Linked DNA regions of Homo sapiens. The protein of the gene in region 1 interacts with the protein of each later gene in a pairwise test. Each region holds a gene or a part of one and is shown on either strand. Other genes may lie near its edges.

Region 1 (3,807 bases):
CCCCTTTAACCTGGCACTTCCCCTGGCAGAGAGCCTCAGGAGAGGGGCACCATCTCAAGTCGAAGAGACCCAACCCCTGTGCCTACACACCACCTTCGCTGAAAGGTACTATACCCCCACCGACCTTCCTGGCTGTCCGCCTGATCCCTGGAACTGGGCAGACGCTAGGGGAGCTTTTGTCAGTGGGGAGGGATTGTTTCGCCACACATAGCCCGCTGTCAGCGTGGCGCAACAACCCAACGTAAAGACCAATTTTTTCTCAGTCTGGCCTTGCAAAACACAGGAGTCCCGAGGCTGCAATGGGCAGCTATGGGCCTTAACATCGGGTTGTGGGCTTGAAAGAAAAGAGATGGCTGGCCTAAGACAACCAGCAGGCATCCGCGTGGAAGGGACTCCACCTGCAGCTCCTCTTCACCAGCCTGTGGTGGACCACCTCCCACCCCTGCTCATCCAGGGCGCCTTCTCCTGTGGGCTTCACCCCTGGCCTCCCCTCCCATTTGCATCCCATTTGCACAGATCTGCACACTGGTCTCCTCTTTCCTGCTTCCCTTTCTCCATGGAAAAGCAAGCCATTCCTTTTGCACACTTACTCAACACCTAGTATATGCCAGGCCAAGTTGGTGGGCATTGGGCAGAATAAGATGAGTCAGATTTGGTCCCTGCCCCCTTGGGGCTCTTTGCCTCAAAGGGTCAGGGAGGGGCCAAGTAAGGTGGCTCACACCTGAAATCCCAGCACTTTGGGAGGCCAAGGCGGGAGGACTGCTTGAGCCTAGGAGTTCGAGACCAGCTTGGGCAATACAGTGAGACCCCCATCTCTATGAAAAATTTACAAAGTGAGCTAAGCGGGCCGGGCGCAGTGACTCACGCCTGTAATCCCAGCACTTTGGGAGGCCGAGGCGGGCAGATCACCTGAGGTCAGGAGTTTGAGACCAGCCTGACCAACATGGAGAAATCCTGTCTCTATTAAAAATACAAAATTAGCCAGGCGTGGTAGCGCATGCCTGTCATCTCAGCTACTCAGGAGGCTGAGGCAGGAGAATCACTTGAACCCGGGAGGCAGAGGTTGTGGTGAGCTGAGATCGCACCATTGCACTCCAGTCTGGGCAAAAAGAGCAAAACTCTGTCTCAAGAAAAAAAAAAAAGTGAGCTAAGCATAGAGGTGCACACCTATAGTCCCAGATACTTGGGAGGCTAAGGCACAAGGATTGCTTGAGCCCAGAAGTTTGAGGCTGCAGTGAGCTATGATCGCACCACTGTGCTCCAGTCTGGGCTACAGAGTGAGAGCCTGTCTCGGGAAAAAATAAAAAAAGAAAAGGGTCAAGGAAGGTACACAAAGATGTTTAAGCTTGGATTTGAAGGATCATAGGAATTTAACAGGCAGGCAAGGGCATCCCAGGTCCAAGAAGAGGGAAGAAGGTGTGCAAAGAGAAAGAGATGCGAGTCAGAGGGGGACTTCTGGGCCAACCTGGAGGAGGCTTCGTTTCTAGTCAGGGAGCTGGGGAGATATACCTGAAGGACATAGGAGGGCCTCTTCCTGACTAAGCCCTGTTGCCTACCAACCCCCCACCTCAACTCCTGCCTGGGGCTCTTCCTGCCCGGCCAGCCCCCTCCGCTCCTGCGGAGGTTGGGAGGGAGAGCTACCGGAAGAGTATGCTGGGAAGTGGTTCGGGGGAGGGTTTAATAAGTTCCCAGCACCAGCCAAGGTCAACAGGTATACCTGTCAGCCCACTTGCCAGGGTTGGGAACAGAGAGGAGAGGCTGGGAAGGGAGGAGAGAAGGGAAGGGGTTATTTTGCTTTCCCCAGGACAGGAAAATGAAGGGTCAGAGCTGCAGCAAGTGGGCAGTGTGGCTCAGCACCTGGAAGGACCTCCCCACCTAGAGGGGTGTGTGGAAGGGCCCCAAAGCAGGCATGAGGGACAGAGTGTCATCTTCTCAGGAGAGAATTTAAGAAATCCCTCTCCCTCCCACCTTGGGCTGGGTAGGGAGAGGCTGGGTGGATGTGAGGGGAAGACCTGGCTCTTGACTGCAAGCATGGGCGAACAGGCCAGGATGAAGATGTTAGGGCCAGGGTGCTACCATGCACCGTGCAGTGGTCAAAATTGTGCACCCCCTCAACTGCCCCTTTAGGCCACATCTTAGGAGAGTCCAGGTGAGTAGAGGCAGGGAAGAGGAAAGGGATCAGGAGAGGGGTGGCCAGTCTGGGGCAAGGCTGGGGACCTTCCAACTGAAGAAGGAAGACTTGTGGTGGGGGGAGTTTGGGGCCCCACAGAGTGGGGCAGAGAAGGAGACAGCCTGGAAGGAGTGATGGGGAGACCCCAGAGAGCCCAGGAGGCATGAGGGAGGTGGGGGAAGCGAGGGAGGCTCACGGGGCACCAGCGCAAGCACCGCACACACCTTCTGTTGTCACTGTGGCTCACGAAGTGAACTCTCCTCCCCCGCTGGGGGAGAAGGAAGCTGCCTGGGCTGCCACCTGCTCTCCTGCCTTACCTCCCCCCACAGCCCTCATGGATCCTTCTCTACCAGGAGGGCACTGTTTTGTAGGCTTCAGTCCTTTTGTGGGCAAGGGAAGGTGCCCGGCAGGGTTGGGGCTTGTCAGGGAAGAATCGAGGGCCCTAGAGAGAGGGGCACAGCACTAAGTCTTAGCTTGAGGGGTTGTGCTCCAAGGCTGGAGCTCTCACACTTGGCTCAAGATGAAGCTCTGCCGCGTCCCCAAGGTCAGGGTAGGGTGATTTATTGTGCTTTTATTGCCTGGATAGCTTGCCCAGAGCCAGCAGGAGGTACTGGGCTGGGAGCTGGGGGCTGGGTGGGGCAGCGGGCACATACAAAGCACCCTCTGTGCCTGTCCCCGAGTTGGCAGGAGCATAGCACCCTGCTCACTGTGCCGGAGGTTTCCAGCCTGGCCCTACCCCTCTGGGCCTTCTGAGGGGAGGGGCCACTGGCAGACCAAGAAGGAACTGCAGCAACTCCCCATTCCCCACCCCCAGCCCCTCCTCAGCATCTTGTCTGTGGCCTGTGAACTTTGTGTCGCATATGTTCTAAGATCCTGCCAGCTCCTGCAGCCTCTCCTCAGTGGCCCCTCAACCTCTGCCATCCCCCAGAACCCCTGGCCTTGGCCCCTTTCTCTAACCCCTTGCTCCTTTCCATCTTTTGGAAACTTGTCTCCAGCTGCCCACACTGTTCCCTTCCCAGCCCTATCTGAGCAGGTCTTTGGAGGCTGGGGGGGTTGCTTTCTAGGTCACCGCAGAGGGAGCTGGGAACCTGGGGATGTGGGTCAAGATTGTGGGGGCCGCATCTGAGCATGCCGCATCCCCCGGCACAGACTGCACTGGCTGCAGACTATTATGTCCTCAGCCTCGGAATTGTTCTGTCCCTTGGAGCCCGGGGCAGGAGTATGTGGATTGGCATCTATGACTGGGCAGTGCCAGGGAGTGGGGACTATGCATCGCATGGGAGGTAGGATCAGGGTAAGCAGTGAGCCCTCAGCAGGCTGGGCACCCCCAAGAAATGGAAAGTGGCAAATCCCCAGGCCCTGGTTCCTACGCCCTGTGCCTTCTGCCTGGGCTTGAAGCTGGGAGACACTGTCTCCCGTACTGGGTACTTGGAAAATCAAGCTCTCCAGCCAGGGAATGTTAAGCTGCTGCTGTGCCCGCCTGGTCTTGCCCAGCCTAGTGCCCTATGGTGTGGGGGAGCTGCCTGGGGGCTAGCATCTTAGGACAGCTTAAGAGCCAAACATGATCAAATCTACCCCTGGCTGCCTCTGCCCTGGTCTGACACCCATCAGGCTGACCTGTCAACTTTGGCCTTTGA
Region 2 (3,907 bases), on another chromosome or scaffold:
CTTATCATGAAAATCAAACACACCTGGGACAAATAGGTAAACCTATTTTGTTACGGTAATGTACACGTATTTTAATGTACTGAAAAATAAATGCATGAAAAATAATTAGAGATGTTGCCATAGTATAATTCACAATAATTAAATCTTAAACATCTACTGCTTAGACTGGTAAAAGAGAGAAGCAGTGCACACACACGCATCCCTCCCTCACTATCGCTGGGGGGCAAAGGTACTCATGTAGTCCATGATTGAAAACAGCCACTTGACAGTAGGTAAACTCCTCTGTATTGCCTCATGTTTATAGAAAGCCTTCCTTTTTGAGTCCAATACATTGGGCTCTATGCAGCAGTAGCTGCCAGGAACAAAGTTAGCTACTCAGATGGGCCAAAATAGGCAGTGTCCCAAATAATGAATTCATCCACAATGCAAATGCTGGAGGAAAGTTTATGTGGCAACAAGCTATTGTGATGGCTCAAACAGTTAGACTAATACCCTTTAGGTTCTTTACAAGTACAGAAAGTAACTAAAAACCTAAAGTACTGCAATCCAGTTAGAAAAAAAAAATATCTAGTACTCCCTTATACCAGTTGTTTCCATCGATATAAAAATTAAAGCCTCTAGAAGGTTAACAGCAAATATTCTTTTAACTTTTTTCTTTTGAATACAAACCAAAAAGCATGTTAATGATTATTTCCACTCTTCATTCAAAAGAACCACAAAAAAGGATTTTGCAATAGTCGCACAAGAAATTGACATCCTGTGAAAATATCCCAGTAAACCAAATCGGAACAAAAGACAAGAGAATCAGAGGCAGAATGCTGTGGGCTTGACAGACTGACTCAACCTAGAGGGAGACACCTCCAGCACCTGTTTAAGGTCCCCATTGTGTTTGCCCACTGGGGACTGAGCTAAGTGTTCTACTCCTGTGGCCAGCCCATAGCTGATGCTTCCCCCTTCGTGGAGCCTCGCCCAGTCTCACTTTTGACAGTTTTCTCCCTAGGATCTAAATTCTTCATTCGATTTAACGCTAGGAGAGCATTCACTGGCACACAGGTGATACACATTGATCTCAGTCTCAAATTCCTAACCCACTGAACCTTCCTTAGAGTGTCTATTACTGTATTTCTTCACTTGAATGTCTCAGCCAAAGTTCAGACACAAGAGCAAACATCAAATAGAGAGCAGGCACAATAGTATTAGGCTCTTGCAGGAGATTGACTGTAATATTTCTTTTTCTAACAAAACTGGGAGCCCAATCATTTATTATCCAACTCCTTAATTAGTGAAGTAAATTACAACAATAACAACAATAGGTGACTACCAACACATTCCACTTACAGCAGTTTAGAAACAAAAGACTTAAATAAAACCTCTGCCCCCAAGGAGCCCGTGCCGGGCCAAAACGGACTAACAGACATAATGTCATTTCATTTATAACCCACATCAAATTCAAAAAGAAATGGTTTTGGGGGATTGGGGGGTGGGGGGCGCAAAAAAAGATGAAAGCATTTTTAACTTACCATCAACCCGAACATATAAAAATCCACAGAGCAGTAGTTGTGTAAACATCAGCAGACTCATTTTGACATATTAAAAAGGATCCAGATTCTTTAAGAAACCAATCCCAGAGAGCAAAAGTACAAAAATGAGTATCAAAAAAAGAGGTAGGTCCAAAGTTTAGACTTTCCTAGATACTAATTAAAGTCAAGAAGAGCAAATCGCAAGATCAGAAGGGGTTGGTGGAGAGGTCTCGAACGGGGCACACTGAGATCCATCCAAATTAACAGAGGGTACTTCAAAGGCTGCTGTATTTCCAGCACTCTGGCTTCCTAAATTCCCACAAATTCAGCCCAGCCAGAGGGATTATTCGAGTGTGTCTAACCCTCTCTCCTTAGGCTCCACTGCAATCCAAAGCCAAGTTCTTCCTTCAGAAGTCAAGATGATGAAGGGGGAGGAAAAGACCTAATTCCTAGAAAGTGTTCCACAAACTTGCCAGCGCGCTGCCGAAAAACCATTGGCCTGCCTACTGGTTTTCTTTCCCCCGGTTTCCTTCTCCGTAGCAGCTCCACGTCCGGAGTTATTTTTTAATATGTCTATATTTTTACTTAACTTCCATAATAAGAATGTGTCAAAGCAACACTTTGCAGGCGGGCAGACTTGGCGGGCCTCTCCTTTGCAGCGGTGTTGCCCTCCCTCCACCTCTCCGGTTTCCAAAAGAGAGGAGAAGGGAAATCAGGACGATTCGGGTGGAGAATCCGAACTCCTACGTGGTGAGGGAGGCAGGGAAGGAGCGAGGGAGGGAGGGAGGGAGGGAGGGGCCGGGCGGAGGCCGAGGCTGCAGACACCCCCGCGGTGCCGCCTCTGAGGATAGTGCACCAGGCGGCTGCGGGCGCGAGCAGAGACGGGCGTGAGAGCCCAGCCCGGGCGCGGCGGAGAAAGGGAGCGCTCAGTCCAGCGCCAGGCGCGCTGAGGCCCCTCGCCCGGGTCCAGCCCCCGCAGCCTCGCAGCAGAGCGTCCGCTTCCTCCGGCAGCTGCCGCGGGTGGAAGGACTTCTAGGAGGGAAGGCGAGGAGGCGGGAGGGGAGGGGAGGAATGAGAGCTGCCTGGAGTCGGCCCGGGGAGGGGCGGGGGCGAGGAGGGGCGCGCGGAGCCCTGAACCTCCGGACTCGGCCACCCGCCCGCTGGGGAGTGGGGAGGGGTCCTGGAGAGCCGAGAGTCCCCGGGGGGACGGAGATGAACAAATTCGGAGAGCCCCGCCGGCTGCCGAGGGCCGAGGCCACCGGGCGACTCCTTCCCCTTCTCCGCGCCCCCGGGTGCCCACTCCTTCCCGCCTCGGGAGGGGATAGGTGGGCTCCAGGCTCCTGCTCCTCGCCGCGTCCCGTTTAATGGGCAGGTAATTTTCTCCGTGAGTGATTTCATGGAAGCCCTTCCTAATTATTCATCCCTCCGTCTGCCGGAGCTGCACGCGCTTTCTTGAAAAAGATCAGCCTCCAGGACCCAGGGCGCAGCCTCATTACGCGTTAAAATCACACACTCACTCACTCTTCACCTTTTAGCCAGATGAGAAGCCGAGTAGGAGGAAGGAAAGGAAAGGAAAGGAAATAGAAGCACCTTTTGGACTGGAAAGGTTGTGTGTAGATGCTTCCTATATGATTCAAAAGCACAAGGGGGAGAAAAAGGAGGGGGCAGAATTCTCTAACCTCCAGCGGCTCATTTTAGCCAAGATCTATGGCCCCCTGCGGCATCCCCAAGGGAAGGAGGAAGGGGAGGCAGCCCCTCTTATGTTACTCAGTTGCCTTTTGACCCCTCCACGATGAGTTTGATGCGCGATCGCGCAGGGCGAGGGAGTTCCACAGAAGATGCTAAGGACGGGGAAGCGGGGATCACAGAGCTTGGGGGAGGGGGATCCCCGAAGTCTTTACCCTCCAGGGACCAGCACCTCCAGAAGGAAATTCGGTAAACATAGGCTCTGGGTGTGGAAAGCCGAAAGCCCAGCTGAGCTCATGGAAGCTCAAAAAGAAGCCGAATTTCAGCCCAAAGACGACAAAACTCTGAAAATTAAGACCAAGACTACCAAAGGATGCCATTCAGGACCGGGGATGATGAAGGAAGGTCACGTTAGATCAAAGGGGTGCCGGTGTCGGCGGTGCCCCGGTGCGGCCGGGCCCACGTGTGATCACAGGCTCGCTGGTAGCCGTTTGATGCTTGTTCAGATGATGAGAAGGCGGCTTATAGGAACTCACGCAGGTCCCCGAGCCGAGCTAAATGCTGGATGGTGAGTCTTTAGTTCCCCCTACTGGAAAATATTAGGAAAGGTTCTCTCCAGAAGGGGCCGTCTGAGGAAGAGCCTTTGTTTGGTGGATACGTTTTGGTGCTGCTACTTAACTTAGGTCTCCCTTGCATATTAT

Evidence for each region.
Region 2: the proteins of PPP1R1B (region 1) and ROBO2 interact in a two-hybrid assay, tested with the Homo sapiens proteins (one large-scale study listed by IntAct).

What each region holds. Positions count from the first base shown.
Region 1 is NC_000017.11:39,629,943-39,633,749, forward strand, and holds part of PPP1R1B (protein phosphatase 1 regulatory subunit 1B), read left to right. Parts: intron 1-29; coding exon 30-105; intron 106-3,807. UniProt on the Homo sapiens protein: Inhibitor of protein-phosphatase 1.
Region 2 is NC_000003.12:77,038,460-77,042,366, reverse strand, and holds the start of ROBO2 (roundabout homolog 2 isoform 23 precursor), read right to left. Parts: upstream 2,269-3,907; 5' UTR 1,582-2,268; coding exon 1,521-1,581; intron 1-1,520. UniProt on the Homo sapiens protein: Receptor for SLIT2, and probably SLIT1, which are thought to act as molecular guidance cue in cellular migration, including axonal navigation at the ventral midline of the neural tube and projection of axons to different regions during neuronal development.